4 separate regions of the Homo sapiens genome follow, and all the other regions are linked to region 2. Evidence: fine-mapped expression QTL. A gene starts in region 2. Each other region holds a variant in brackets. All regions are shown on one strand. Distances are from middle to middle. Region 1 holds the start of CRBN (cereblon). Region 2 holds the start of TRNT1 (tRNA nucleotidyl transferase 1). Region 3 overlaps CRBN (cereblon). Region 4 overlaps CNTN4 (contactin 4).

Region 1 (8,137 bases), 52 kb before region 2:
GATCTTTGGACTAGGTTGGCTGGTTTTATCCATCAAACCAATATGGGTCTTAATCTTCATCCCAGATGGAAGTGGGGAGGAATGATATCTTTGCCTTTCATCATGGAGGAAAATCTCTTCTAAAAGTTATCTTCCCTCTTCATTCTCAGAGGCTACCAAGCTGACTTTCTCTAGGTGTCATTAGCCAGGACCAGATCAGGTGATACCATCAGCCATAGAGGAGCTTGGAGGAATAGAGTGGGCTCGTTATTACAGGCTTACAGCAAACACGACCCCATAGCAGAGTACACTATTGCCCCAAACAAAATCAGAGTTCTTGGCAAGGAAGGAAAGAGGAATTGCTGTTGAGTAGGTAGGAAATCGGTGTCTGCCAGAACTGTGCAATTCATCTTTCATTTAATGAACATTTTTTGAGCAGCTTTTAAATGCCAGAACCTGTTCTTGGGAGCAGAAATTCCCCATTCAGACCTTATACCTTTGAGGGGGGAGAAATGAGACTGTTTTTAAAAGTAAGCCTCACAGTATTTTATTATTCTATTATTATTATTTTGGAGACAGGGTCTCATTACGTTATCCAGGCCTCATAGTATTTTAAAAGTTGAGAAATGCTTTGATGAAGGCAAATGAAGCAGAGAAGGGTAGAAAATGGTGGGAAGTGTGGGAAGAGGGTCACAATCTGACACTGGGTAGTGTGGGAAGGACTCCCCAAGGAAGGGGTATTTGACCCAAGACCTGGAAGGTACAAGGGGAAAAGTCACGCATCTATGCAGGAGGAGAGCACTCCAGCCAAAGGAAAAGGCAATTGCAAAGGCCCTGAGGTGGCCATGGGTCCATGTGGTTGTGGAAGAAGAAGATCAGTGTTGATGGAGGGGAGGGAGAGCCCACAGAGCAGCAGTGAAGTGACATCAGGGCAGGATATTGGGGGCCCACTGTGCATTATAAGGGCCACTGCAAGGGAGATGGGGAGCCAAGGAAGGGTACTGAGCAGGGGAGTCACATAATCTGACTTGTGTTTTAACAGGATCGCTCAGACTGCTTTGTTGAGAAAGCACTGTGAGAGCTAAGGGTAGAAGCCGAGAAACCAGTGTTGGTGCTATTGCCATACTCCAGGCAAGAGATAATCAACCGCTTAGACCAGAGTAGTAGCATTCTTTAACACATTAAAAAAATATGTAGAGGCTGGGCATGGTGGCTCATCCTTAATCCCTTAACCCCAGCACTTTGGGAGGTGGAGGTGGGCAGATTATTTAAGCTCAGGAGTTCAAGATCAGCCTGGGAAACATGACAAAACCCCATCTCTATAAAAAATACAAAAATTAGCTGGCCGTGGTGGCTGGTGCCTATGGTCCCAGCTCCTCTGGAGGCTGAGGTAGGAAGATCACTTGAGCCCAGGAGGTGGAAGTTGCAGTGAGCCAAGATTGCACCACTGCACTGCAGCCTGGGACAGAGCAAGACCCTGTCTCGAGAAAAAAAAATTTTATATATATATATATATATGAAGAGAGACAGAGAGAGAGAAAATACAATATAAAGGGAGACAGAAATGTCCTCTCCCAGTCTATGTGCTCCTTGCTGCTAATATTGTGTAGAAGCCAGAAATGGAAAGAGCGATGGTCCTTTTCATTTACATTTTCTCCCGTCTTCTACCACCCTTAATTCTGTACTATTAAAGTTAATTCTTGAGCTGTAAGACAGTGATCTATGAACATATATATTTCTTTTCCCTCTGGCTTGCAGAGCTCCTTATCCATTGATACTGCACGCAAGCAAGAGGAAATGTTAGGAACAACTCAGTATGATATCTTCTTTCAGGATAAAGTTACCAAATTAAACAAATGGTAAATGACCATGTTTTCCTTTTGGTTTTAATAACCAGTGCTTAATCCAAGAAACCTGCTTGCTTAGATATTTTTGTTCAATGATCATCTGTTATCCCTACTGAAAGGTGTAGCTGTGGATGACTAGGTAGACTCCGGAGGGATAAAATGAAGGAGGGAGCAGGTGGTGAATGTGAAGAGTGGAGAGGAGAGGAGGAGAATTGGGGAGTAAAAGATACACAGATGTGAGCTCCGGTGATCTGTAGCAATGCACAAAAGAACAGAGAAAGAGCCAGTGCTTCTCCAGCCACATTTGTAGACTCCACCAGCCTTGCAGCTGTGCTTTCTCGTCCGGAGAAGTCTTGATTGACCCAGGGTTCAGACAATTCTGGTATCACCTCTGGGGAGAAAGACTGGAAAGTCAGAGCTTACTTATTCAGAAGCTAGATGCTTGTGTAAAGAAAATTCTACTGCACGTAAGCACAGGTTATTGAAATTCTACAAACTGTAGTGAGACATAATGTTACAGCATCAAACACACACACATATTACTTAGTGCATGCTCCCTGCTTGCTTGCGTTCTCTCTCTCTTTCACGTGGGCACACACACACGCACACCAATACACCGGCCATTCCCTCATCGTTCTGTGCTGGCATTCTGGCATAGAATCATCCTTCAATTGACTGGAGTGATCACCTTAACTCCGTTAAATCATTACGTAGTATATGTAATTGTTATTAACCTCATCGTAAAAGGTGATGCTATGATTCATGTTGCAGACATTATTAACTGGAACAAATAGGCGACACTATTTGGTTCGTTCTTATTTTGCAAATGGGCGAATTGAGGCCCGCAGCCATAAGTGATTTGACGAAGACCACAGACTGATTCGGAGACAGGAGGCAAAATGACACAGGAATGATTCACAAGCCTCTGTCACAAGGGAGTTTTCTGCTTGTAACTTATCAGGGAGGCAAATTTTCTGAAATCATTTTTTCAAATCTCAGATCCATGACTTTTCTGTTGAGCAATGCTGCTGCTTCCTCTCAGCCTCCGCCCACCACCACCACTACCATGTTTAGATGTTGTATTTCATTTAAGGATTTTTCAGTTTTCCTTCCTCGCTGAAAAAGTGATACTGAAATACACTACGAAAACTTTTGTCCTCCCTCCAAAACAAATATCTTACCAGTCACAACTCCACCATTATAACAGAATTATCTTCATTTTTTACATAGTCTTTCTTTTTTGCCACAGTGACTTGTTTTTACATAGCTGAAGTCATAATGAGTAGGCTAGTTTATATTCAGACAATTTTATTTACCAATTATAAGGCGTTTTCCATTCTGTGCAATCATCATTTCAAGTATGTTTCTGATTAATACTTGTTAATTTTGGAATGTAATGTACATATATGGAAACTACTGAAGTTATTGAAGTTGTATGTACATACATTGAAACTACTGAAGAAAATCAGCAATAATTCAACCACCCTCGGAATAACTGATGGATTTCCCCAGCCTTCACATATATGCTTCTTATTTTAAGAATTGAAACTAATGCTGCATGAACAGGTTTCTATTTGCTCCCTGCCCCCTTCGTTTAAAAACAAGGTGGAGACTAAAGGCTCTCAGCCTCAGTTTCTCCATATGCAAAATATCAGGATTAAATAAGTCATGCTAAGGGCTGGAACAAAGTGAGGGCTCTGCAGCGTGTACGCCGGGCACTCAGCCGTGGATGGCAGGGGACGGCGTTCTGTCCCCGGGACGGAGCGCAGGCCTGTAATTGTCCCTCCCGCCTAGGCCATCACTTTCAGGCTTGGGTACGCGCCGCCGTCTG[C/TGC]TCCCCTGGGGCCGCCAGGGGGCGCTGTGGCCCCGGTGCGCGGCAGCCGCGCGACACGGGCCCTCCCTCGGAGTCTTCGGCACCGCCCTGTCCCAGCCTCCTTTGCGGGTAAACAGACATGGCCGGCGAAGGAGATCAGCAGGACGCTGCGCACAACATGGGCAACCACCTGCCGCTCCTGCCTGGTAACCGCCCGGAGTAGTTCCCTGTAGTCGGGAGTGGGGCGAGGCTCGGAGCCGCTAGCGGTGCAGCTGGGCCTGGGAGGCGGGCGTGGGGGCGCCAAGCCTGGCGAGCCAGCCCAGCAGGGCCGCACCGGAAAGCTGCTTCACGTCGGCCCTCGGCCAGCGATGGAGTCGCGGCGCTTTCTTCGCTGCTCTGTTGCCCCGAGCCGTGAGCCAGGGTGTCGGGGGGAGCATTTGCTATTAAGAACAGGAAACCCATCCTCTCCATCCTCCTTGTGTTCTGAGTTTAGCTCCTAGGAAATGCTCTGAAACTAGAGGACCGGGTCAGATTCACAGCGGTTACTTTTGCTGGTCTCCTTCCTTTTAATAAGAGTGACAGCTAACATGTACTAAGCACTTACCATGTTACGAGCCGTGCAGTTAACGCTTTGCATGCATGTCGCCTTTTAATCCTTCCCACATCAGTTTTCAGTTTCCGATTTGATAAGCGAGTATTGGATTTGCAGATTAGTTCAATGACTTGCCCAAGGTCACACAGCAGAGTCAGGATTCCAACCCGGGTGTGTCTGTCATTATATCTCTAAACCACTTCTCTGTTTTGTTTTTCTTACTATCGGTCTTTCTCAGGCATGTACGATTATGCTTAATCAGAGATACTTAGTTTTTCTTTTTCCTGTATGTTGTGTGAAATGTTTAGACTTTGGCCTTGTGTTGAAATACTGAACAAAAAAAAAAATGCATGGAATATTGCATAAACTTTTCATGGAATGCCTTTCAAGAGATGCTTTCCAAAAGGTGTATCATCCAAACTTGAAAGTATTACTTGAGTCCCTTCGTTATATGACAAGTATGTTAGGTGTTGTGGAGATGAAACGAGAGGTAATACACAATCTGATAATTGAGGTTTACTGTCTAGGCGGGGCTGCTGAGAATATAACTAAACGTAAATCAACTGCAGAGGCGGTTGATTTAGGGCCAGATAAATGAATGCTGTTGTGGCTCTTCAGAGGCAGAGGTTGTTTAAGGGTCAGAGGATTTGGGAAAAAGCCTTTCAGGTAGATCAGGAGACATCTAAAAGCACATATTTAGGATATGGTTGTGGGACATAAGGCCTAGGAGGTATATTGGGTCTAAGTTGCTGGGAAACTGGCATCTCTTGCCAGTGGGTTTGGGTTTTTCCTGTGGATTGCCAAGAAACAGTTTTAGGTTTCAGGTAATTGCCTAAAGAAATCTATGCTTGGAAGATTAATTTGTCCACTGGTAGCAGCATGGATTAAAAGAGGAAGAGACTGAGTGCGTGCCCACCATATAGGAGAGAACTTTTCTGTAAAAATAAACCATAGTCACTGGTTGTTCTCGAAGCCATTCTAGCTGAGTTGACACAAGGGTAAGTGTGCCAGCCTTTGATGGAAAGCTGAGCTATTTTTTCAGAGACATTAGCCCTACTCTCTGTGCCAAATCCGGTGTTTCAGGGAGAATGGTGAATAGAAGAGGGAGGATACTGATCTTCTGTCGACATTCACATCGTGCCTCTGCATGAGATGAGTCATCAGACTTCACTGATAGCTCTGAACAGTCAGCGTGGTTTTTTGTTTGTTTTTTTTTTGTTTGTTTTGTTTTGTTTTTTGTTTTTCAGAAAAGCGTCGGGAGAGGGCCCAGAGATGGTGTAGATATAGCAATAATGCCTCTCCAAATTACGTAAATTTTATTTGTAGGGAAACACTGGGCTTTCCATAATTCCATGTAGTACGAGTTGTTCTGAAGAGTAAATCCTCTAAGTTCCAACAAAAAGCTTTATATTTGAGATGTGAAGAGTTTATCCTAGGCAAATGAAACATTAATAAACATAACTGAGTAGGGGAAAGTGGTTTTTAGCCATATTTATGAAAAAAAGGTTACTAAAGAAATTATTTAGAGACTAGGAGTCAGAACAGTTAAAATGTAAATTTTTAACAATATTAATTCCAGCCTTTGAGCTAATAGTTTATCTTTTAAACTTTCTGTAGTAGAGCAATAAAGTGGGTTGTGCTGCATGCCAAGTGATAGCCATACTGTCAGAGTTGGAAATACAAACAATTTGATGCAGAATATTTTTGTCATCCATTTAGATAGCTCTTTTTTTATCTCAGTGAAACTTACATGTTCCAAGGAAAATTTGTATGAAGTGTTAGACCATTGGCTATTTACATATAAGTTGAAGTAATTCTGTTTTTGACAAAGTTTTATATCTAGGAAGTTGTAATAATAAATAGAAAGTCCAAGGCAGTTACCATATTGAAAATCATTTTTATTTTCTGTCAGGGGCCTGGCTAGAGGTGGTTTGACTTAAATAATGATATGCAAAGGAAAACAAATGATTATTTCGTAATGACATTTTATCGATTTAGAAGTTTATTTGGGGCATTTAAAAATACATGAACTGGGAGGTGAGAAATGAGATTCAGTAATTCTTTATTGTTAGTCTAGGCCAGGGTCTCCCAACCTCAGCACTGGACTTTTGGGCTGGAGAATTCTTTGGGTGGGATTGTCTCGTGCATTGTAGGATATTTAGCTGCATCCCTGGCCTCTACCCACTAGATGCCAGTAGGACTCCCTTAGTTATTGCAACCAATATCCCCTGAGGGGCAAAATCACCTGTGGTTGAGAGTCACTGGTCTAGGATAGGAAATTTACTCATAGTTTGTATGAAAAGGACAGACTCACAGTTAGTACAATAGCATATGTATTGTGTAGCGTTTTCTAATTTTCTTTGCTGTCATTGGTAACATCTGGTTTTCTAAGACATTCTTTTAAAATGTTTTATGCTTCATGCAAACTTTATTTTTAAATTTAAAATTAAGCAAAATAGTATGCAAATGATTGCAAAATTTTCTTTGTTTCTTTCTTTTGAGATGGAGTCTTGCTCTGTCGCCCAGGCTGGAGTGCAATAGCACAATCTCAGCTCACTGCAACCTCCACCTCCTGGGTTCAAGCGATTCTCCTGCCTCAGCCTCCCCAGTAGCTGGGATTACAGGCACCTACAACCACACCCGGCTAACTTTTGTGTTTTTAGTAGAGATGGGGTTGCAACATGTTGGCCAGGCTGGTCTTGAACTCCTGACCTCAAGTGATCTGCCTGCCTCGTCCTCCCAAAGTGCTGGGATTACAGGTGTGAGCCACCACACCTGGCCTTCATTTTAAGATAATGTAGCGACTGCCAGGGAAATGTTGTCACTAGAAAAATGCTGTGAAATTCTTCCTGCTAGGTTATCTTTCTCTCAGTTTTAATTAACAGATCTTGCCTGCTTTGTTTCTTTTCTTACTTATGTAGGAACTGATTGAAGTTGAGAGTTTGAGAGAACGTTAGAGGTTGACTTGTTGAAGCCTATCATTTTGCAGATGAGGAAACTAAAATTTAATTGGGCAGAATGAGTTGTCTAAGGTGTTAAAATTAGTTACTGGTGAGGGAGAAGAGAAAAATCTCCCATATAGAAGAATTTTAAATAACTTACATTTCCTCTTCAAGGGAGTGGAGCATAACTCATCACCCCTGAAGTGGAGGCTACACCTAGTGATTTGCTTCCGAAGGGTACAATGTGAAAAGGAGGGGGGAAAGGAACTTTACAGCGGAAAAACCTGACACACACTGCTGTAGCCAGGTGATCAAGGTTAACAGCAGGAATAGTTCATAATATATAGGCTGGATATGTAATAAAAACAGCACATTGGCAACAGACCCCATTTCTAAAAAGGAAAAGAATAACAACACTTCACTTCTGTGGTCTTCCTCCCTAAAACACGTATCCTCAGTCTAATCATGGGAATTACATCAAACAAAACCCAGTTGAGGGATACTCTACAAAAGGCCTGACCAGTACTCCTCAAAACTCAGAAACAAGCAAAGTCTGAAAACCCCCCTAGCCCAGAGGAGGGTAGGGGGACCTGATAACTAAATGTAAAGTGGGATCCTGGAACGCAAAAAGACTAGATAAAAACTAAGGGAATCCATTTAAAATATGAAGCTTAGTTAGAGTAATGTACCAAGACTGATTCCTTCGTTGTGGCAAATGTACCATACTAATATAAATTAACTATAGGGGAAAAGGATGTGTGACACACGGGAGCATTCTGTACTATCTTTACACTTCTCTGTAAATGTTAAACTATTCTAAAATTCACAGTTGACTTAAAAAAAAAAAATAGCTACTGACAGAGCCCAGCACGGACCCCAGTCCTCTGGCTCCCTCTTCACGGTGCTGTAGAGTTTACCAAATGCATGTGGTTTTAGAAGTACCCCTCTTTTGAAGAAGGAATTACAT
Region 2 (8,145 bases):
AAATTTGTTTGAGTTCATTGTAGATTCTGGATATTAGCCCTTTGTCAGATGAGTAGGTTGCGAAAATTTTCTCCCATGTTGTGGGTTGCCTGTTCACTCTGATGGTAGTTTCTTTTGCTGTGCAGAAGCTCTTTAGTTTAATTAGATCCCATTTGTCAATTCTGGCTTTTGTTGCCATTGCTTTTGGTGTTTTGGACATGAAGTCCTCGCCCACGCCTATGTCCTGAATGGTAATGCCTAGGTTTTCTTCTAGGGTTTTTATGGTTTTAGGTCTAACGTTTAAATCTTTAATCCATCTTGAATTGATTTTTGTATAAGGTGTAAGGAAGGGATCCAGTTTCAGCTTTCTACATATGGCTAGCCAGTTTCAGGTTTAGAACGTTAAACACAATTGTTAAAATGATGTTCAAGAAACTATAGTAATCAATATTTAGAACCTTATTTCCAAAAAATGCAGAATGACCTGAGTTAGGCCATCAAGAGTTAATTACTACTCCTTCTTCCAAGAGGCCTCTTGCAATTGAAGTTGAAAAATTGGGGGCTGTGAAGGGCATACACAGAAAGAAAAAAGCTTCAACTCAACCCAAAATCACAGCTTCAAAATCTGCACTATTCAAACAGCAGCCACTTGTACTTACTGAGCACTTAAAATGTGGTAAGTCTGAATTCAGATGTGCTGTATTAAATGCATGCCAGACTTCAAAGACTTCCAAGTAAGAATATAAAATATCTCATTAATTTTTTTTTTTTTTTAAAGACACGGTCTGTGTCGCCCAGGCTGGAGTGTAGTGGCACAATCTCGGCTTACCGCAAGCCCCCCTCCCAGGCTTCAGTGATCCTCCCACCTCAGCCTCCCAAGTAGCAGGGACTACAGACACATATCAGTATGCTTGCCTATTTTTCATATTTTTAGTAGAGATGGGGTTTCACCGTGTTGCCCAGGCTGGTCTCAAACTCCTGGGCTCAAGTGATCCACCCACCTCAGCCACTCAAAAGTGCTGGGATTACAGGTATGAGCCACCATGTCCAGCCTCCCAAAGTGCTAGGATTACAGGTGGGAGACACTGTGCCCGGCCTCATTAACAATTTTTATACAAAATTCATACTGATAGTATCTTAGATATATTGGATTAAATTAGATGAACCAAAAATAATTATTAAAATTTATTTCACCATTTCTATCTTTTTAATGTGGTTAGTAAAAAAGTTTATATTACATATGGGCTCATAAATTTCTATTGGACAGCAATTTTTAGCAATTTTCACTCTCTCCAATTAAAAAAGATAGTGAAGCATCGGCAAAACCAAACATGCATTTAAGCCCTCTACTTAAAGTCTGCCTAAAACAATCTAAAAGAATCAACATATTCTGGGCCATTTATCTCTGGCACGTACCTAAAAAGCCATCATCCAATTTCAAGAATGGGAAAGTAGCTTTGAGAATAAGCTAATACAAGGTGAGTCATGTTAAAGTAATGGTTCGTCTATCTTCTGTGCATCAGAATTAACTTGTGGAGCTTTTATTAAAAATATAGATGGTCATCCCACCCAGAGATTCTAATTCAGTAGGCTGCAGGTAGAACCCGAGCATGTGTGCTTTAAAAGCTCCCCAGGTGAATCTAATAGATAGCCAGTGCTGTATAGGTCATATTTCTACATATACTACTAAATATATTTATGAAGGTGCTATTAAAATTCCCACAGGCTTTGTAATGCTACTGTGTGGCTGCTTTAGCAACATCAGCAGACAACATTGAGAATCAACACTAATGAAACTGTGGCAACAGCAAGAAGCTACTGGCACTTAGCTAAAGCCATTTCCTATGCTCCTTCCAGACAGGTTTTGCAACGTGCACAATGGAGGCAACTCCTATTTCCTTCTTCCTTCAGTTCTCATGGAAAGCATTTATACCTAGGAAGGAAACAGAGCTTAGCGGTTGCAAGCTGGGCTCTGAAATCAATCTGCGTAAGTTCGAAACCTAGCTCTCTAGTTAGTAGTTACAGAAACACAGGCAAAGCACTTCACATGCCTAACAATCTGTTTCCTTTTTCACGTAACAGGTCAAAATGTGCGTACTCATTAAGTTAGTAGCACCAGTCCTGTAATGAATGGCAAGTACTTAGCACAGCATACAGAAAAGCCATGCTTTTTACTGCAGTCAACTTCTTGCCTTTTCCAGTGATTTAGCTATATTTTTGGATCAGCCATATGTAAGCCTTTCTCTTTTAATATTCCTTTCTCTTTTTTTGAGACAGGGTCTCACTCTGTTGCCCAGGCTAGAGTGGCATGATCATAGCTCACTGCAGCCTCAAACTCCTGGGCTCAAACAATCCTCCTACCTTGGCCTCCCCAAGAGATTACAGGCTGGGTACACCCAGCCAAGCCTTTCTTCCAACAATGAAAACGTGCACATTGGGCACCGTGGCTCACACCTGTAATCCCAGCATTTTGGGAGGCCAAGGAGTGAGCCCAGGAGTTTTGAGACCAGCCTGGGCAACACAAAGAGACCCTCTACTTACGTTTTTTAATAAAAATAATTAAAACAACAATGAAAATATCCGAATGCTGGCTTAAAAAGTTAACCCTCTACTTCTCCATTTATATAGGTTTCCAATCAAGAAAAGGTATCCTAATCTCTCACCTGTCAGACTCTTCAGTCCTTCTGTGAAAAGTGACTGGAATTCGGGAGACTGCAACTTCATTGTGAATAGATACTGCTTCGGAAGGCACAGCCTACTCCACCTACGGTTCAGCACTGGCCTGTGCCAATGATACAGGCACCTCAGCATCTGGAGAGGCAGTCACCAACTACACATCTACAAGGCAAATACACAGGCATACCAATGAAATTAAAAGTGAAGGTAAGTGAAGGAAAACAAAGGGGGACACATTTCAAGTTTATCAACTCAGAAATTCATCTCTTGTTCAGATGAAAAAACTGAAAACGGTGTCAGTTTGAGGGATTACGACTAGGTCTATGTATCTACCTGGTTTTGTTCTCCAGAAGCACTTACTGTGGCAGGCGGGGTCTCACTAGCGCAGGCCTCCATAACTGTTTCAGTACTGACTGACTGGTTGAGTTACATATTAAAAGCTGAAAGAGCCAGCCAGTGCCCTTAAACAAGGCTAGAATGTAACAAAAGCCCCCCAAGAGTTTTGCCTAGGCCTTTCCTGGACCTTGAAGCATGATAAAATAACAAAGGAATTCTTTTTTTTTTTTTTTTTTTTTTTGAGATGGAGTCTCGCTCTGTCGCTCAGGCGGGAGTGCAGTGGCGCGATCTCAGCTCACTGCAACCCCTGCCTCCTGGGTTCAAGAGATTCTCCTGCCTCAGCATCCCAAGTAGCAGGGATTACAGGCGCACACCACCACATCCGGCTAATTTTTTATACTTCTGGGTAGAGACGGGGTTTTACCACGTTGGCCAGACTGCTCTCGAACTCCTGACCTCAAGTGATCTGCCCGCCTCAGCCTCCCAAAGTGCTGGGATTACAGGCGTGAGCCACTGAGCCCGGCCACAAAGGAATTCTTAACAGGACCCGTTTAGAATTAAACAAGTTTTACTGGGGATCTGAGGAAACTCCCCAGGCCTCCACGAACAAGTTTATTAGGGGTCTGAGGGAACTCCCCAAACCTCCATGATTTAGCAGGAGAGAATATAAGGGTAATCACCCCAGCACCTGGACCCATTTAGATTAAGTAAATTTACTCAGGCTCCAGAGGAAGGTCTTCAGGACTCAGATCTTATGGGTAAGAAGTTAATCACTTGTATCTTTAGATCAATGCACACTTACACATAAACATACAACTTACAAGGTATATAAGCTCTGGAAAGCTCTGTAATTCTGAGTCGGTCTGGGATATTTTCCACGCCTTCGCCCCGTACCTGGTTACAGAAATAAACTCCTTTCTTTCCTAGTTTATCTGCATCTCATTATTGGGCAGCGAGAATAAGCAGCCCAACCCTCGGTTTGGTGGTTTGGTCGGGGAGCATTACCACGACACTCGCATGCCACATGGTACTGTGATGACACTCTCCCCAGAGCAGGGCTTCAGGCAGTATGAGAGGGATGCGGGGTTCTAGAAACTCTAACCGAGTTTCTGGTCTCCAAAACTTGTCATGGTCACAGGTGGGTATCACCCTACTTCCCCACCTGCACTCGAGGATTCACGACCCTGGGATAGCTCCTAGACATTGTATTTTCCCATGAATTTAGTTTTGCTGCCCCCATTTTCCTGATTCTTTTCCTGCCATCTTGCAATCTCCTCTGATTTCTGGCACACCGCGGCCTTCCCTTCTACATATCACATCCTCGTTCTCCCCATACGGGGGTCCTGCCCATAAGGAGGCCGCAGCAGCTCTCGAGTGACCCCGGTGTAAACCTGCAGAGAAAAACCATTCCATTCCACGGAAGCGGGTGGAGGAGCCGCGCTTCCCGGCAGGCCACGTGGGGCGGAAAGACCCACTCAGTTTCCTCGCACCTCCGCCTCGACTTAGGAAAACGCTCTGGGGAACCCCAGCCCTGAAAAGGCGCGTCTCACCCCCCACGCCGGGTGCTGGCGACAAGGCCCAGTGAAAAAGCGTCTCGGGGCCGTCCGCGCGGAGGGGAAAGTGCTGAGGGAAGCCAAGGAATCCGCGCCTGCGGTCGCCGGAAACGTGGCGGGGACACGACCTCCGCGTCGGGGCTATTTTGCCCACTGCTGAGGAGGCCTCTCGCCACGTCCCGCTCCCGTCTTCCTCGAGGACCGGGCGCGGTGGCGCCTCTGGCCCACAGCAGGAAGGAAGGGGCAGCAACTCACGCCACCAACTCTGCCCCTCTGAGCGGCGCGCGCCCGCTTACCGGCCCCGCTGTTGCCGCAGCCGCCACCGCCGCCACGCGCACTTCCGGGCTGGTGAACGCGGTGACGTCACCAACGCACATGGGTTGGCGGCGAATGGGAAGTCGCGGCGGGGCGAGGGCGAGTGCGGGGGCGGGGCCCGGACCGAAGGGCTTCCGCCTCCCGTCGCTCCTCCCCACCGTGAGGCGAACCTCAGCCGGTTTCCCAGCCCCGCCGAGGCCCGCTGGGGCGAAGCGGAGCCCCGGGGGGCCCTGAGGAAACCGGCGCGGGTTCGTTTAATTACGCCCTTCTCGCCAGACCTCTGGCTGGCCCTGAGCTGCTCAGAAGCCCATCTGCGCGGCATGCCCGTGCGATCTGAGACAACTGGCAGCTGTCTTCCTTTGCAAAACGAGACTGTTAATAAAACCTACCCCAGGGTAGGACGGACTGTTCGGTAAATGTTAACTTATCCGTGTTTGACTATTCTCTCCTCTAATCTCTGCATAGGGTTAAGTCCACAGTTGACAGAGTCACGCGCATTCGAAATCTAAGCCCGCCGGTCCTATGAACTTACTGGGCATATTTTATTTTCTTACCTGGTTTGTGTAACCATTGGCCTCCTTGGCCCGGAGGCTTCCCATCTGTAACGTGGAGAACTTAGATTTGATCCAGTTCATTAATTCTTTCTAGAGCGGAAAAGAGCAAAGAGAGTGGCAAAGGAGTGGGAATACAGCCGTTGAGCCCTTAAAGTGCGAAAATGTGTAGTTTTTGTTTTGTTTTGTTTTTGAGACGGAGTTTCGCTCTTGTCGCCCAGGCTGGAGTGCGGTGGCGCGATCTGGGCTCGCTGCAACCTCCGCCTTCCGGTTTCAAGCGATGCTCCTGCCTCGGCCTCCCGAGTAGCTGGGATTACAGGTGTCTGCCACCACGCCCGGCTAATTTTTAGTAGAGACGGGGTTTTGCCGTGTTGGCCAACTGGTCTCGAACTCCTGACCTCGTGTTCCCCAGGCCTCGGCCCCCAAAAGTGCCGGGATTACTTTTGCCGGGATTCGGCCACTGCGCCCGGCCGAAAATGTGTAGTCTTTTAAGTGTAACTTTACATCACTTAGCTTTCCCTAAAATTTTCCTAGAAAAATGCTTGTGCATGTTATTTCTGTTCTTTTGCCCTCCCCACATGCCTACCTGTTCTTCCCAAACTTTTCAGCCCCACTCTCTGTAGACTTCCTAAAACGTAAAAAGTAAGATGTGCAATTACCACACCTCTTCAAGGTGTTGAATATCCTGTTTTTGGAAGCACAGGACTGGCTTTCCAAATGGACATTCAGAGGCACAGCATTGATATCATCCGGTGCAAGGATTTTCTGTCTCTCTCTCTCTTTGGGGCAAGGAAAGCCCCAAATCATCCTTTCAGGCTTGTCTGCTATTTCTCACCACCATGACCCTAGACAAACTGGACCAAAGCCTCCATTGCTGTACCCACCTAGAATAGATTCTCCAAATCACCACCTATGAAGGCAACGCTAATACAACTATTATGATGACTTACTTCGTGCCAGTTACTGTGCTGGGCACCCTCAACAATTTCTGGCCTTGTAAATATATAGTTTATATATGCAGGTGTATATACAGTTGTCCTTCCGTATCCATGGGGTATTGGTTCCAGAACATCACCCCAGCCAGTGTTCAAGTTCTTTACATAAAATGGCATAATATTTACATATAGACTATACACATTCTGTAGTACAAATCATTTCTAGATTACTTATAATACCTGATATAAATGCTGTGTAAACAGTTGTTATGCTATATCGCTTCTTTGTGTTTTTTAATTGCTATTTAATTTTTTTTTTTTTTTTTGAGATGGAGTTTCACTCTGGCGCCCAGGCTGGAGTGCAGTGGCACGATCTCAGCTCACTGCAACCTCTGCTTTCCAGGTTCAAGCGATTCTCCTGCCTCATCCTCCCAAGTAGCTGGGATTACAGGCACCCGCCTCCACGCCCGGCTAATTTTTGTATTTTTAGTAGAGACGGGGTTTCACCATGTTGGCCAGGCTGGTCTTGAACTGCTGACCTCAGGTGACCCACCCACCTAGGCCTCCCGAAGTGCTGGGATTACAGACGTGCGCCATGGTGCCCCAGCCTTATTTAATATTTTGACCTGTGGCTGGTTGAATCCACTGATGGAGAACCCATGGCCATGGAAGGTCAACTGGAGAGAGAGAGAGAGAGAGAGAGAGGAGAAAGAGAGAGAGTAAGAGAATTCCTCCTGTACTGGCCAAGACAATAAAACAAAAATAGGGGTATTACTACAGATCATGTAGATATATATGAGGAGGTATTATAAACAATTTTATGCCAATTAATTTGACAATGTAGATGCAACGCACCAATTCTATAAAAAAGACAATTTATCAGAACTGAAATAGGGTAGAATTTAAAAATCTGAATAGCTTTTCATTTTTAAAGAAATTGAATTGTTGTTCAACAGACTTCTCACAAAGATAATTCCAGGCCCAGATGGTTTCAGTGGTCAAATTTATCAAACGCATAAGGAAGGAAGAACTCCAGTCTTGTGCAAAGTTTGTTTAGAAAATAGAGGAGGAAACAGTTTTCCTCTCATTTTGAGGCCAGCATAACCCGCATAACATAAAATCAACACTACAAAAAAATTAATATACAGCTTAATATACCACATGACCATAGAAACAAAAACAACTTTAATAAAATGTTAGGAAATTGAATCCAACAGTATATAGAAAGATAATACATCATGATCAATTTGGGTTTGTCCCCAGTGCAAGGAATGCAAGTTGTATTTAATGATCTAAAACCAATCAACGTAATTCACCATATTAACTGAAAAAGAAAAACTGTTGTCATCACAATAGATGCAGAAAGACCACTTAAAATTCAATCCCTACTCATAAAAACTGCCAAAAAAATTAGAAGGGACTTCCTCAATATAGTAAAGGTCATTCATGAAAAATCCATAGCCAATATCAGACTTAGTGGTAATATATTGAACACTCTCCCCCTTATATCAGGAAGAAGGCAAGGATGCCTCATCTTACCACTTCTTAACATTTGTCTGTAGTTTATAACCATTAACAAAGCAAGAAAAAGATATGGAAAGTGTAACAATTCAAAAGGAAGTAAAATTGTCCCTATTTTCAGATGACATGATGGTGGTTTATACAGAAATCATAGGAACTGACAAAACTACTACTAGAACTAACAAGTAAATTTAGGAAGGTCTCAGGATACCAGGTTAATATACATAAATCAATTCTATTTTTATATATTATCAGCAAAAATATAGTACATAAAAATAT
Region 3 (8,000 bases), 34 kb before region 2:
ATTCTGAATTCTTTGTGTCATTTCAACATTCACAACATCTTCAGCAGTAGATTTCTTCTCAAGAAACCACTTTATTTGCTCATCCATAAGAAGCAACTCCTAATCCATGTTTGATCATGAGATCACAGCAATTCAGTCCTATCTGTGGGTTCCACTTCTAACTTTAGTTCTCTTTTTGTTTCTGTCACATCTGCAGTTACTTAACTGAAGGCTTGAAACCCTCAAAATCGTCATCCATGAGGGTTGGAGTAAACTTCTTCTAAATTCCTGTTAAGGTTGATATTTTCACCACCTCCCATGAATCATGATTATTCTTAATGGCACCTAGAATGGTGACTCTTTTTCAGAAGGTTTTCAATTTACTTTTTCCAGATCCATCAGAGGAATCACTATCTGTGGCAGCTATAGCCTATGAAAAATGTATTTCTTAAATAATAAGATTTGAAAGTTTAAATTACTCCTTGATCCATGGGTCACAGAATGGAAATTTTGTTACCAAGCATGAAAACAGCATTAATCTCCTTGTATGTCTCCCATCAAAACTTCTGGGTGACCATGTACATTGTCAATGAGCAGTAATAATTATAAAGAGTCTTTTCTGAGCAGTAGGTCTCAACAGCAGGCTTAAAATATTCAGTAAACCATTATCTAAACAGATGTTCTGTCATCCGGACTTTGTTCCATTTACTACAGAGCACAGGCAGAGTAGATTTAGCATTCTTAAAGGGCCCTAGGATTTTTGGAATGGCCAGTGAGCATTGGCTTTAACTTAAAGTCACCAGCTATTAGCCCCTGAAAGGAGACTTAGGGACTTTCTCTGGATTAGGCTTTGGCTCAACGGAAATTTGTGGCTGGTTTGATCTTCTGTCCAGACCATTAAAACTTTCTCCATATCAGTAATAAGACTTTTTGGCTTTCACCAGAGTAGCATTTCATATTCACAGCTTTGCTGTTTGCCCCAGGAGGCCTAGCGTTTGGCCTCTTTCAGCTTTGACATGTGTTTCTAACTAAGCTTTATCATTTTTAGCTTTTGATTTAAAGTGAGAGATGCTTGACTACTCTTCTTTTCACTTGAGCACTTAGAAGCCATTGTAAAGTTATTAATTAGCCTAGTTTCAATATTGTTGTGTCTCAAAGAAATAGGGAAGCCTGAGGAGAGGGAGAGAGATGGAGGGGCTCGTCAGTGGAGCAATCAAAACACATTTGTTAAGTTTACTGTCTTAAATGGGTGCAGTTTGTGGTGCCCCAAAACAGTTACAGTAATAACATCAAAGTTCACTAATCACAAATCATCATAACAGATATAACAATGAAAAAGTGTGAAATATTGTGAGAATTACCAAAATATGGCACAGGCAGGTAGTTAGCACATGCTGTTGGAAAAATGGCTTGATAGACTTGCTTGAAACAGGGTTGCCAGAAATCTTTAATTTTTTTTTTGTTTGTTTGTTTTTAAAGGCAGTATCTGTGAATCACAGTATGCCTGTATTAAGTATTTGGGTATATAGAATAGTTCTTCCGCACCAAGATGGCTTAAAAATTCTTAACCATTAAAAATCCTAAATTAACGCTTCTTTGCAAAGTTCTAAGTATAGAGTGAGAGCAGTGGTAGTTAATTCCTGACTCAAGTGCTCTGTACAGCTAGTTCTGTGACCTGCCTGTAGGATCCTGCAGTCTTAAACCTGAACTTGGGCTAAGCAAGTAAGACTGCTTTTTAAATTTATTTTTTATGTGAGTTACTACTTAAATTCTTCCTGTTCTATGGTTAAAGCATCTTGTTTACATTACATTCCGAATTTGGCCCATGCAACTGGGTTGCCACTGGCTTAATAAGACAAGAAAAGATAGAGCTGGGAAGACCAAAGAAGCACATATTTGCCTGGGTTCAGATCCTCTGAATTTTTCCTCTTGTCTTAATTAGCCCTTGGTTATTTTCATATTCAGAGTTGCCAAGGGCTAAAGAGACGATGCTAAGGAATGAGAAGGCCTAAAAGGTTTTAGGTGATACAAATAACTCCATCCCATATACGTCAGGTTATCTACAGGGTTCCCTTGCTTAAACATTGATAGAGTTTCTTAGGTTCTGAAATTTGGAATCTAGATCACTAGGCCAAGAGAAACCGCTAGCTGATCTATTTTGGACTCCAAGTGACCTACAAACTCTGTTCTGCTTTAGAGAGACCACTTAGAGCCATTCTGTGTGCATCAAAAAGGAATCCAACAGGGAAAGGGGATGGCAGATATCTTTGGTAGGAACTCCGTATGCAGTGGGACCATCTGAGTGGTTTGGCATGCTGCACCTTTAGTGGGACGCTAGCTTACCATGAGGGCTGGATTATGTAACAGTGTTTGTCTTTAGACAGATACAAGGTTCAGTTCATTCCTGTCTTCATAGAGCTTGCTTGTATCTGATTTGTCCATCCCACCATAATCTGAAGTACTGCATATGTGTCTTCTGTCTCTGTGTCTGAGTAGTAGTTAAAATGGTCAGAGTTGGGAGATGCTTACATAACTAAGCTAACTCAAGCTAATAAGGTTGCCGCGCACTTTTCCTGCAGAAAAGGAACTTAAAGTATCGAGGATTGTAGTCTTCCTGAGATATATTCAATTAACTTTGAAACTGCACACAGCATTTGCCGTGGAAACCTAAACAACTCAAATGACATGAAATAAAATTATTTAAGCTTCTGGAAGTGTTCTGTGTTATCTACCATTCTGACAAGGAAGCATTAGAGAAGATTCAGCACGTGTCTCTCATGATTAAGGAGTTAGGCCAGTGTAATTAGGAAACACTTTCAAAACCCACTCCATCTAGAGACATTTCTTGTTCTGGAATTTGAGCTCTGAAACTGTTTACTTCTTCTCCCATCACAGTGCCTTTCTCTATTCACTGGTTTACTGTAGGGGGATTTGAGAATCCCCCTACAGTAAAAATCCTCCTCAAAAAAAAAGAGGAAATTTTGTTTAAACCTGTTTGGAGTATGACTTAAATGTTTCTAAGTATATTCCCTGCTTGCCCAGACCATCTGCTTATTCATATATCAAGGCTTACTATGTTAATCAGAAAAGAGTTGAGTATGAAATGTAAAGATAAGTCAAATGGGAAACAGATACTAAGAAAGTAATGAGTCTCATCTTTCTGGCCTCTGTTGAACTTAGCCATGGTTGTTCCTGTTTATTGCGTAGAGCAGGGAGGAACTGAGCATGAATTTGGAAGGGCAGGGGTCTCATACGTAATCTCCCAGATTAGTGTTTAAATCTCCTCCTAATTTTATCTAGATACAAATGTTCTTATTTCTTTCTTATACAGAAGGATACGTACCTTTTTCTTAACGGTGTATCTTATAGGAGATTCTTTTGTATTAGTTTATAGAGCATTGCTCATTCTTAAAGCTGCTTGGAATTCTTTTGTATGGATACACTGTATAACCAGTCCCATACTGATGATAGATCTGTACTAAATAACATGTACAAATGACCTTTTATATAGGTAAATATTTATGATAACTTTTAAAGAGTGAGGTTATTGGCTCACAGGGTAAATGCATTTATAATTCTGTCAGTTTTAAAAATAATTTTGAGGCCAGGCACAGTGGCTCACGCCTGTAATCCCAGCACTTTGGGAGGCTGAGGCGGGTGGATCACAAGGTGAGGAGTTCAAGACCAGCCTGGCCAAAATGGTGAAACCCCGTCTCTACTAAATATACAAAAATTAGCCGGGCATGGTGGCGGGTGCCTGTAATCCCAGCTACTTGGGACGCTGAGGCAGGAGAATCACTGGAACCCGGGAGGC[G/A]AGTTATTTTCAAAATACTTAAGGTGTTTGTACTTATTTTTATTGTTTCATCATGGCCTGACAGGCAATGTAGTATCAAACCTGATGTTTGCTGATCTGATAAGTGAAATATATTACATTGAAGGTTCAATTTGAATTTCTCTGAGAGCAAGGGTAAGCATTTTGTTGTAAGAGCAGTTTGTGTTTCCTTTCTGTAAAGTGTTTGCCCATTTTTCTACGGCTTGTTGATTTCTTGGGAGTTCCTTGTAAGCTTTATAGTCTCTGTAATTAATGAGTTCCAAACATTTTTCCTAGTTTGTCTTTTGTCTTTTGTTTTTGGTGTGGTGTGTCAAACAGAACTGTTTTTTTGTTGTTGTTCTTACATAGTTTAATTTTTAATGCTTCTGTATTCTAAATCATAGCCAAAAATGACGTTCCCATGCAAAGGAATGTCTCATGTTTTCTTTGGATACTTGCTGTGGTTTCATTACTTTTCCGTGGAAAGCTCTGATCCTTGTGCAGTTGATCCTGATATAAATTCCACTTTACTTTTTTCCAGATGGCTCCCTATTGTCCTACTACCACTTTTTGAATAGTCCATATTTTCTCCCATTGATTTGAGATGCCACCATTGTCACAGACCAAATTCATATGTTTATTTTACTTTTCTTCTCTTTTGGTCTGCTTGTGTGCCATCATCATATTGTTGTTAATGTTGGCACTTTATACTTTGTGTAAATAAAAATAGGGCTGGTAAGCCCCTCACTGCTTTTTTGTCAAGCTTTTCAGTGACTACCATTGATTAACATTTCCTTGTGAACTTGAGAATCTGTTTCACCTTGTTCCAGGATAATAATCGTAAGAACAGTAACATTTATTGACTATTTTTATATAAAGAAGAAAAGTCTTGAAATCTTAGGCTATGTATAGTCAGGTGCTTCCTCAGAAAGACTGGTCATTTCCCAGGCATACATCTTGTATGTACACTTGTGTATCTGCCATTAGCGTATAAGCCTCAGGAGTAGGAAAGAGCTTATCATTCCATCCCAGTTCTTATTACCATGTAGGAATTTGGTTCATGAAAGAAGGAAACAAAAACTGGTAACTTTTTAATTATTTATATAAATTATTTCTGTCATTTACATTGCTGATTGTAATAGGATTTAACACAATAAGTGACCACTTTTAGTCACTATATAAAGGAAGTCAGTGGTAGTGATTTACTATTTATGTTTAGCTTTTCACATTACTCTTTCCATTTTCATTGCACTTCAAAGACTCACTTAAATGGAGTTTCACATGTTTTGAACATTCTACGTTGTTGGGAGGCAAAGCCGAAGCCATAGTTATGAGGCTTAAGAATGGAGGACTGTGATAGATTACCTCCAGGTAACAGATTCGTTTTAAGGGCTTTTATGCCTGCTTTCAGTAGTAAATCCTGTTCCCAGAGTGAATACTACTCTGCTGGAGAATCCGTCATTGGTCACTTTTAAGTGCCTAAACTTTTTGGCTAGTATTAAAATTTTCTTGAGGTATAACCATTTTATGACATCAATCATGGTGTTGATATATTTAAAGAATGCCTATAAATTGCTAGAACTTATCATCCATTTTACCCAGATATAAGACAGGAGCCTTTCCTATTGTGCCAGAAAGCTAAATGGGACTCTTAAATTTGAGGATGTTGAAATGTCTTAAACTTTGGCAGTTGCTCTGTAAAAGCTAGCTAGCTAATCTGTTCTGGTATATGTCTCTTCAGTGTGTCTAATTGACTAACACACATCACAAATATTAAGGATGTATTATGCATATTTGAATCTGTCAGGATGCTCCAGATAAAGAATTTTAGAGGTCTTCTGACTCTGAAAAGAAGCTACCTGAAACTGTAGCTTGCTCATGGGCATGGTGGCAGAGTGAATGCCTGATCCAGTGCATTGCTCTTAATATGCTAGTGTGCCACATTTTATTCTCTTTATACTTGAAATTTACATATTATTTCAGATTCTTTTTCTTGACATGGGTGCCAAATGAAATTACACTTTTGTACTACACTTTTTTACATTTCTTTTGTATTACAAAAGTGACCATTCTGATATGTGAAGTATATTTTAATAACTGAATGAGGAGTGTGTCAGCGAAACTAAAACTTTCAGTTGGGTCTTTGTCATTTTGTAATTCTAAGAATATATAGCTTCTTCTCTCTAAAATATAAGCTCGACAGGGTATTGAATTTTGTTGGTTTTTCTTTCATTCACTGGCATAGCCTAAATGTATAAAAATAGCCTGACACATGTTAGGCACTGTATTAGTCTGGTCTCACGCTGCTAAGACGTACCCAAGACTGGGTAATTTATAAAGAAAAGAGTTTTATTTGACTCACAGTTCAGCATGGCTAGGGAAGCCTTAGGAAACTTACCATCATGGCAGAAGGGGAAGCAAACATGTTCTTCTTCACATGATGGCAGGAAGAAGTGCCAAGCAAAAGGGTCAAAACCGTCTTAATAAAACCATCAGATCTCGTGAGAACTCACTATCATGAGAAAACCATGGCAGTAACTGTCCCCATGATTCAGTTACCTCCCACCAGATCCCTCCCACGACACATGGGGATTATGGGAACTACAATTCAAGATGAGATTTGGGTGGGGACACGGCCAAACCCTATCAGGCACTCACAATATTTGTTGAATGAATGATGGTTAGAGTCAGACTCCCTGTATACAGATCCTAGCTCCTTCCTATTTACTGACTCTGTGACCTTGAGCAAGTTATACCATCCTTGTGTGCCTCTGTTTCCTTACTTTAGAATGGAGATAATAAACTACTAACCTTAGAGTATTCTTACAAGAAATGTGAAATTCTTGGCACAATACTAATGGTTGCCATTGCTGTTCCTGAAGATTCAGAGCTACTTGATGTGCTCTTGGTAGTATTTTCTTAAATTCTGTAACTGGACTGTGACAATAATCTTACCATTAGGTATTTAGTCTTAAAAGTGAGGGACAACTTATTGGAGAGTACCTGAAGGGTCTCATGGTCTGACTCCTCAGGCTTTAACCACTACCAGAGCACACAGTAGGAGGCCATCTCAGATCACCTTTGGCAGGGGTCCCCAAATCCTGGCCCACGAACCAGCACTGGTCTGTGGCCTGTTAGGAACCGGGACGCACAGCCGGTGGTGAGTGGTGAACGAGCAAGTGAAGCTGAGCGCCACCTCTTATCAGATCAGTGGCAGCATAGATTCTTATAGGAGCGCAAACCCTATTGTGAACTGCGCATGGGAGGGATCTAGACTGCGTGCTCCTTATGAGAATCTAATGATAAATGTAATGCACTTGAATCATTCCAAAACCATCCTCCACCCCATCTTTGGAAAAACTGTTTTCCACGAGACTGGTCCCTGGTGTCGAAAAGGTTGGGGACGGCTGATCTTTGCATAGTCTCAAATATAAGGATTATATTAAGCCAGAAATGTTTCTCATTAAGGAATCCTTTGTTTTGAGCTGTAGGTCGTGTTTTAGAACAAGTCTGTCCTCTTCCATATTGCAACTCCTAAAATATTTGAAAACCAGTGTGTCCACTTGAGAGACAGCTCTAAACTGAACATCTCTGGTAACAAGACATTCCCTTTGATAATAAAAGTTCCCATATTTGAACAGCATGGAATAGAATAACATTGTCTCATAGATTCTAGTCTTCTGTTAAAACCGCAGTTACTTTTGCACCAAACTAACATAGCTAGAATAGGATTGGAGTGGCGGGGAAGTCGAGGGTGTGAGTGGTGTAGCACATTGTACAGTTGCGTAGTACAATTCCAGCTGTCAGCTCAGTCCCGAGTCCCTTTTATGTGTGCTGTGTTCCCACGTTTCCTGCAGATCTTACTCCGGCACTTGCAAGATCATATGACTAGGTATGAAACATACCTAGGGTAAGTATCATTCAGCGTATGAAACATACCTAGTCATTTGATATTGCAGGTGCAGGAGTAGGGTCTTCCTCTTGTTTTGTTAAATGTTACCTTGTTTTTCTTGTTCTGGTCTGTTAAAAGTGCCTTTTGATCTACCTTATTCCTTTTCTCTCTCACTTTCATGTGTCATGTCACATGTCAATTAACATTTTATTTACAGTGAAATTACAAAGATTTGTACGTATGTAGGTTTTGTTTTGAGAAAAATGTGATAATTCTTTATATTCTGCTATACCTTGTTCTTTGATCACTTGCAGAGCA
Region 4 (8,145 bases), 400 kb after region 2:
ATGCTGTGAGACTCTGTCTCAAAAAAAAAAAAAAAAAAACACAAACATGCACTTTAAAAAAAAAATTTGTGTTTAAAGTTGGATATTTCAAAATCCAGATATTTACATTTCAATTTCAGATTTTTAACAATTACACAGATATTTTCAAAACATATTTAAGTACTGGTCAAATGTGAGCTCACTTCAATGGTAAAGAATTAAGTGATTTTTGGCACATCTAGGTAAATGAAACATGTTATTCGTCAAGATCACTAATAAAGCAACAAGTTTGGTGGATTTTCTCTAAGAGAGAAATATTTCCATTGTTGTCCCCAATTCCAAAATTATGTGTGTGTATATATAATATCAATCATCTCAATTCATTGGTGTTCCCTGATTTGAATTTCATACAGAAATATAGAGTCTATTACTAGTTATTCCACATAAGAATAAAACGTAATAATGATTACTCAGGATGCAGCTGAGAGACTGTGGATTAACATCTGTACTGTTTCTCAATGTAGCCATGCAATATTTAAATAACAAAAAGATATTTTTTCTGTGTATTTTGTAACAAGAATTGATAATAATGATGCTTTGCATTCACTATAAATAATGCATTCCATCTAAAGTTTTTATTTTCTCATAGTTAACCAAGCTCACTGCCTGAAAATTAACATTAGCATAAAGGGAATAGTATTTCAGTTCTCATCGAAGGAAATCCACAGGCTTTTGTGCACGAGCTATTTGGGCTCACAAAGATGAAGGGAGAAATTTTAGAAAGTTTAGCTATCAAGGTATTAAAAAAAACCCAGATATCCTAGCTTTTAAACCTTCGGACCAGGGTTAACAATGTTTTTGAGAAAAAAGAGCTGCTTTATTTCACCAAAACCTTGAGGTGCCTGGGTGAGACAAAGAGTCCTGAGAGAGGCGTTCTGAGATGAAACAGGGGGAGAGGCATCCCTAAGTTTGTTCTATCTCTGTGTGGCAGCCACAAAGTGACTTTCAAGTGTCTTGAAGGCACATACAAAAGACTGCATTTACCGTTTTCAAAGCCTAGAAGATAAAGTTCATCTTTTTTTTTTTTTTATCACAGTAAGTTGTTCTATGTAACCAGAAGAGTGGCTGTGATTTTCAGTCTAAAGAGGTAAAGAGCATCGCAGCAAATGACAGAGGACAAGATTTAATAATACAATGCGTCTCCGAGTTAGACTGTAGACCACCTGCATTATTATCATGCCATGCTTGTTTTATCAAACCTCAGTCCAGACTGACTACGCCAGAAGAATCTGGGGTGCATTAATCTGCCCTTTAACCTAGCTCTCTGGGTGATTCTTCTGCACACTGAAGTTTGAGAACTACTAACACAGATCCTTCTATTCCTGGCTCTCCATTTCCTAAGAACAGAACATCGGCCAACACCGGTTTTAGACCCACTCCTAGACACATTTTTTTGGGGGCAAAGTCTAACCAACAAATCTTTGCTTGATAAGATTTAGAGAGGTAATTTTAGCACATGCCTGCCTGGACTAATAGTTGAGAGGGAAGCATCCAGGAACAGAAAGTTATAAAACTGACTCACATGAATGTGTCAAGGCCTAGGACTGACATAAACTAACTCTTTCTTAGAACACTTGTAGTTGAACTCCAGAAGCTAATTGTGAGACACCACCCTCCCCAACAAGCACTGCACTGAATTGACAAAGAGCAGGCATCCTTAGAGATCACAATAGTCCACTGACCTATAGTTATAGTTTGTCTTCATTTGTATACATAGCATTTATACTGTAACCACTACCATTTATTTATAAGTAATGAATGTCTTCTTATTTGAGTGACAGGATGTTGGGATTAATGTTTTTACACTTGGGTCCCCAAAAGGGTGAGAGTCGCCCCAGGGCATCATCTGCCTTGGAGAAATTAGGGGCATGGGCTCACATTATTAGAGGAGGGGAAGGCAATGATTTTCCACCCTTCTAGGAATTCCTAAAAATCATGTTAAGAGGAGGAATGAGGAATGAGGGAGTGAGCAGTAAGATTGCCAAGAGCTCACCTACAGTCTTGTGGATTCCAGACCATTGATCTGACACACAGCTTGGAGGATCTAGTGCAGGCACCAATACTGTTACATCATGATTTCATGATTTCCTGAGTTTGTTTCTCCTTGGTAACTAGGTACCTGCCAATCAGTCACTAGGCTAACTTCTATCAGACTACCAGTGTTCTGCAAAGTTCCATACCACGGTAATTATCTTGAATTAGGATGGATAAACCCATCTTCATAAAGGGAAGGGAGAAGACTAGGCTGAAAAAATCTGCTTTCATGCTTCAACAAGGAGTGGGAAATCTTTGGATTATCAGAAAAAAGCACAGATTTCATGACCAGAAACAAGGGTCCCAGAAGTAAAACATAGTGTCTCTGGGCTAATCTGAAATTTTTGGATTACTGAAAGAGATGCACAGAATCATAGAATTTTCCATTAGAAAATATTATTTAATATTATTTTCCTAGGTTACAGAATAAAAATGACCACATCTGTAATGGAAACAAAATATTTTTTGACTTAAAAAAAAAAACCCTCTAAGAAAAAGAGTAATAAAGCACCTCTCCGCAGCCGGGTGTCACTTAATTTATTTGCTGTATTGGAACATCAATGATCTCTATTTTTTTTTCTTTTAATTAATTTGGCCCACTTCCACATTTTCCTGAACTTCCCTCCCAGGCAAGCAGGATACTACTCAGGCTGCTGGAAGCGAGGCTGGGCAAGAGAATCTGAATGGATGGGGCTGGGCTGAGGCTGAGCAGAGAAAAATAAGCCTGAATCTCAGGTGATGGTTAACTCAAGGAAGTGAGGCAGATGCCCAAATATCAAGCCCACAGGAGCAAGTACAGAACAAAATCTGGATTCCAAGGGAAAGGTCAAAAAAAGATAACACGCATAAAGCAGGAAGCTAGAGGGTGGGTGGAGCTAGGAAAATTCCACTGATGCTAAATGTAGTTTTTTGGTTTTTATTTTTATTTTTACAGGGCATCTGTGAACAATCCTAGGAGCTGGACCAAGTCAGGCAGTAGATCTAATCTCAAAATAAACATTTCATAGAAAGCAACATAGTAAAAAGGTAAGTCAAACTATACCTAAAATAATTATTTCTCAAAGTGTGTCAAGAAACCTCCCGGCTGAAACAGGTGA[G/A]CATCCCTCATCCAAAAATCCAAAATCTGAAATGTTCCAAAATCCAAAACTTTTTGAGTGCCAACATGAGATAGTGACACCTGTGCTAGATGATTCAAAGTATAAACTTTGTTTCATGCACAAAATTATTTAAAACATTGTATAAATCACCTTCAGGCTATAGGTATAAGGTATATATGAAACATTAATGATTTTCATGTTTAGACTTGGGTGTCATCCTGAGGATATCTCATTATATATATGCAAATATTCCAAAATCCACTGCCACCCCCCACAAAAAACCAAAGTCTGAAACACCTCCAGTCTCAAGCATTTTAGATAAGGGATACTGAACCTCTATGACCTTAGCTAAGAGTGCTTGTTAACAGGTAGATTCTTGAGTCCCTCCCAGACCTACTGGATTCTAATTATCAGGACTCAGAAAACAGCATTTGAGCAAGCATCTCTTGATCTTTATGCATTCTAAAGTTTATTTTATTTTATTTTTTGAGATGGGGTCTCCCTCTGTCACTCAGGCTGGAGTACAGTGGCTTGATCTCTGCTCACTGCAACCTCCGCCTCCCAGGTTCAAGCGATTCTCCTGCCTCAGCCTTCTTAGTAGCTGGTATTACAGGCGCGTGCCAACACACCTGGCTAATTTTTTTTGTTTTTAGTAGAGACGGGGTTTCAGCATGTTGGTCAGGCCGGTCTCGAACTCCTGACCTTGTGATCCGCCTGCCTTCGCATCCCAAAGTGCCGGGATTACAGGCATGAGCCACTGCTCCTGGCCTATGCATTCTAAAGTTTTAAAACTAGTTATGAATTGAGCACAGACAACTTTCATTTTTCTTTTCTCTTCTTTTTTTTTTTTTTTTTTTTGAGATGGAGTCTCACTCTGTTGCCCAGGCTGGAGAGCAGTGGCACGATCTCGGCTCACTGCAACCTCCACCTCCCAGGTTTGAGCGATTCTCCTGCTTAGCCTCCCGAGTAGCTGGAAATACAGGCGCCTGCCACCACGCCCGGCTAATTTTTTGTTAATTTTGTGTTAGCCGGGATGGTCTCAATCTCCTGACCTCGTGATCCGCCCGCCTTGGCCTCCCAAAGTGCTAGGATTACAGGCGTGAGCCACCGCGCCCGGCCACTTTCATTTCTAAACAGGTTAGGATCCCAGTGAAGAAAAACTACCCTGCAGAGTTCTGTTCTATGTGCTAGATCACTCTGCGGCTACTCCGTGGGATGAAGGCCACATTTCGCCGCATGACCCTTAGAACAGCACCCTTTTCTTTTGCTGGAAGTATTTCCATCTGTTGCAAATTCAACTGACTCTGTTGGGAAAGAACAAAAATGCAATATTATGATTTCATCTTAGAAAACTACAAATTCCAGGTTCAAGTCTACTTGTCATTGCTGTGGTGTTCCCAGGTGTTGCACCTGAAACTTGTTTAAGCCCTTAATCCTAATGGCAGGTATGAAGTGCTGCCATAACAGCCAAGAACCCAGCACTGTGATATACAGTCAATCTTCCCATGACATCAAATGGGCTATTTGATTAAACACCTGGTCTTGGGTAGAAACACTTCAAGAGCAACAATTTTCACTTGGGAAGTAAACTCTAGGACACCTAATGGGGAACACAAGGGCTTGAATAGAAGCTTAGAATACCAGCCAGGGAAGACTGCATGGGTTTAGATATGAGTTGTACCTGGGTCACATCTGGAGGGTAGGTAGCTTTTTGCGTTATGCATGCACAGAAGTAACCTGGTGCAAACCAGAGTGGCTTTGCCTATATCCTGCAGAGCCCTTGACCAATCAAGAGAGTAAATGCTCCGTGTGTGTAATCAGTGGGAACGTGTTGCTTTATCAGATTGCAGAACAAAGTCACCAGGGAAAAGGAAGGGGAAGTTCTGCTAAGCTGGGTTGTTGGGTGTGCTCTCAGTGTCCTGCTCATATTTCACTTTCTCCCTCACCACTCACACCAAGGGGGAACCCAATGGGAAGAACCATTACTCTTTCCACCACCAGCATGTTCCAAGAAGGGCACACGTAGGGCACACTGTGTCCTGCTGGCTGTGAACCTTCTCCTCCAGGCTTCCTAATGATTAGGGAAATGCATTTTGGCTAAAAAACTGTAAGATCAGCAGCATCTCTGTGGATCTAAATTACTCATAAAACGTATGGGCAATAACCTAAGGAAATTCACAAACAAATGAAATACTGTAAGAGTGATTTTCCTGAGTGCAAGAATTCCTTTAAAATTCAATCACTGATTGTAGAAATGATGATTGGACAGCTGTCACACTATCATTACTAATACAATTTAGTGTTGTTAGTATTTATAAGACAGACAGCAAGGCATGTTCAAAGGCCTTACCCAAGTGCCTACTTGAAAAACTGGCCAACACACAGCGTTTCTATTGAATAAGTATTCTATTTGGTTGTTCAGCTGAATAGAGCAGAGGCAAAGCAAATATTAGAGGAGACAGACATGCCTGCTTAAAGGATAAACATTACTTTCATTTGTCATTGCTTCCGCCTTCCTTCTTTTAACCCCTCAAATGAGCATTTTAAACAGCAAGAAACAGAGAAGTCTACCGACAGCTGGTGTATGTCTGAAGGCACAAAGTGAAAAAAATCCAAATGAGAAGTGAACTCTTCTCAGACGATTTCTTTGTTCTCTTGTTAACAAAATAATGCTGCCGCCATCATGCATTTGTCCCACACATAATGAAGCCCTAATCGTTTGTAATGCCAGATCTTAGAAACAGTGGTAGGACGGGGAAGTGCTGGGAGCTAAAAAGGGTCTCTCCTTGGGGAAAAATTGTGCATTGCTCGAGGATTTTTAGGCGTGGAAAAGAACAGCCGTGGGGCTGTATCAATGTATCCTACTCTGACCCTGATCTTAAACCTTGACACATTCCAGGAACAATGGATTAATGACTCTTTTAAAAATAAGTAATTGGGTGATACTGACGCCAAGCCCTAGTTATGACAAGAAAGAAGCATTTCCAACAAATGCAAATACTTTGTAACTCATTTGGAGGCAAAAACTGACCTGAACTGATGGGAACTGATGGGAGACTATTTATAGACTCAATGTGAATATTCATATGCTTTGCTGCAGAATTAGAAATGCGTTTGATTATGCAGTGCTGACCCAGACTCAGCTGGGGATGCTATTATGTAACACTGGGCATGTTTTGTGGGCTATATTTCTCTTCTAAAATTACAAACATTTTAAATTCTCAAACATTTCTGACCCAAATGGCTTCTGATCCGAGTTTCTGGGACTAGATTGGATTCCAATTCCAATATTACATGGAGGCGACATAACCGTGTGCAAAGCAGACATTGTCCTGCCCTCATGGAATGTTTACTCTAGAGAGGACTAATAATAGTTATAGCTAACTTCATCTTTTTAATTAATAGAACTTTATTTTTTCAGAGCAGTTTGAGGTTTACAGAAAAATGGAGCAGAGCACAGAGAGTTTGCCTACACTCCTTCTCCACACAGTTTCCCGTATTGTTAACATCTTGCATTCCTGTGCTGTATTTGTTACAATCGATAAGCCAATATGAATGCATGCATATTAACTAAAGCCCACAGTTCACATCAGGGTCCATCACGTATTGCACATGCTGTGGTCCTGGCAAATGTATTAGGACATGGATCCACCATTACAATATCACACAGAGTAGTGTACTACCCTAACAACCCAGCGCTCCACTGCAGCAAACTTTCCGATTTATATTTAGGTGCATTACTGTTTACTCATGAGAATAAAAGCATAGAAACATACATGTATAAAATTGATTGGCTTTAGCTAGAGAAATGTAAATGAGATATCAGGGTCACTAATTCACTCAATGGTGCTTCCCTACTGGCATAACTATGTAGTAGACATCTGTGATTTTTGCCTCAGTATCCACTGCTCCTCATTAGGTAAGAGCATTCTACTCTTTCTTTGGTGAACCAACCCTCCTACTCTTTCAACTCAAGTGGTTTGGATAGACTAAAATCCTCTGCACAGGTCAGGAGTAGCAGATGACACTGCTTAGCATTGATAAGTTATTAATACTTATTTATACATTATCAATTGGCCTGACCAATTAATATTCCATTTTCTTGGTTAAATTGGTTCCCATGCATGGGTGACCAAAGCCTGGCTAATGAGACTCCATTGCAGGACTTTTCATAAAACTACAAGGAAAAAACCCTTTTGTAGTCTAGAATTGCTTACAGAAGGAAGCCTGGAGCTTCCAAAGACTCCCACATAGAGAGAGAGAACCTAAAAAGAGAATGAAGCCAAAACAGAAAAGAGCAAAATTAAAGGATAGGGACAGACTGAGTTCTGATGGCATCGTTTCAGCTCTGGAACAAGTTCCGTCCCAAGCAAGCTTTATCCCTAAGATTCTCAGATATGAGAGCTAATGATTGCCTTCATTTAAGCAAATCTGAGTTGCAGTTGTTATCAGCTGTACCTAAGAAACTCCTGATCAACACTATATGCATAGAAAGGTACACACCAATTTATTCAGTGAGTTATTTCTTCATGTCATTGGTCTTCGTTCTATTCTTATTTCTTTTTGACATTTCTCCAAATGTACTTGTGTGTGTGTGAATACATACAAGTAAGACTGGTCTTCAGCAATGTGGCAGGCAAAAGCCTTCTCTCTGTGGACTTACTGTTCATTTTTGTGTCTGTACTTCAACCTGAACACCACCGGGATCAACTACTCCCTAAAAATCTGCTTCCTTGAACTGTACCCCTTCTGGTATTTCTGGATGCATATGGAAAACTCCATCATGTGTGTTGTCCAGGCCCTTCCCCACTACAGGACAGTTTCTTGTTGTAAAAAAATATATATAACTACAATCTAAGTCATTCTGGAGACTGTTAGATTCAAGCTGGAATTCATACACTTTAATGGTGGCCTTTTGAAAAGACCGTTAACCAAAAGCAGTGCTAATGCCTTCAATATGCATTTGTGTATTCTT

The links.
Region 1: its variant is fine-mapped to the expression of TRNT1 in whole blood (TOPMed, PIP 0.98).
Region 3: its variant is fine-mapped to the expression of TRNT1 in whole blood (TOPMed, PIP above 0.99).
Region 4: its variant is fine-mapped to the expression of TRNT1 in cerebellar hemisphere (GTEx, PIP 0.96).

Annotation. Positions count from the first base shown.
Region 1 is chr3:3,175,326-3,183,462 of GRCh38, reverse strand. It overlaps CRBN (cereblon), which reads left to right and starts at 3,772. Exons shown (of 11, transcript NM_016302.4): 1 at 3,772-3,842. The coding sequence starts at 3,776. RefSeq lists a silencer at 3,539-3,708. The variant C/TGC (reference allele first, on the strand shown) is at 3,658.
Region 2 is chr3:3,123,686-3,131,830 of GRCh38, reverse strand. It overlaps TRNT1 (tRNA nucleotidyl transferase 1), which reads right to left and starts at 4,891. Exons shown (of 8, transcript NM_182916.3): 1 at 4,841-4,891; 2 at 2,643-2,817. The coding sequence starts at 2,790. LOC124909339 (a long non-coding RNA gene) reads left to right here and starts at 5,000. Exons shown (of 2, transcript XR_007095786.1): 1 at 5,000-5,271. RefSeq lists enhancers at 4,328-4,407, 3,830-4,560 and a silencer at 4,768-5,187.
Region 3 is chr3:3,157,268-3,165,267 of GRCh38, reverse strand. All of the region lies in intron 5 of CRBN (cereblon), which reads left to right. Among named protein-coding and RNA genes, the nearest start is that of CRBN, 18 kb to the left of the region's middle. The variant G/A (reference allele first, on the strand shown) is at 3,794.
Region 4 is chr3:2,725,427-2,733,571 of GRCh38, reverse strand. All of the region lies in intron 4 of CNTN4 (contactin 4), which reads right to left. Among named protein-coding and RNA genes, the nearest start is that of CNTN4-AS1, 330 kb to the left of the region's middle. The variant G/A (reference allele first, on the strand shown) is at 3,171.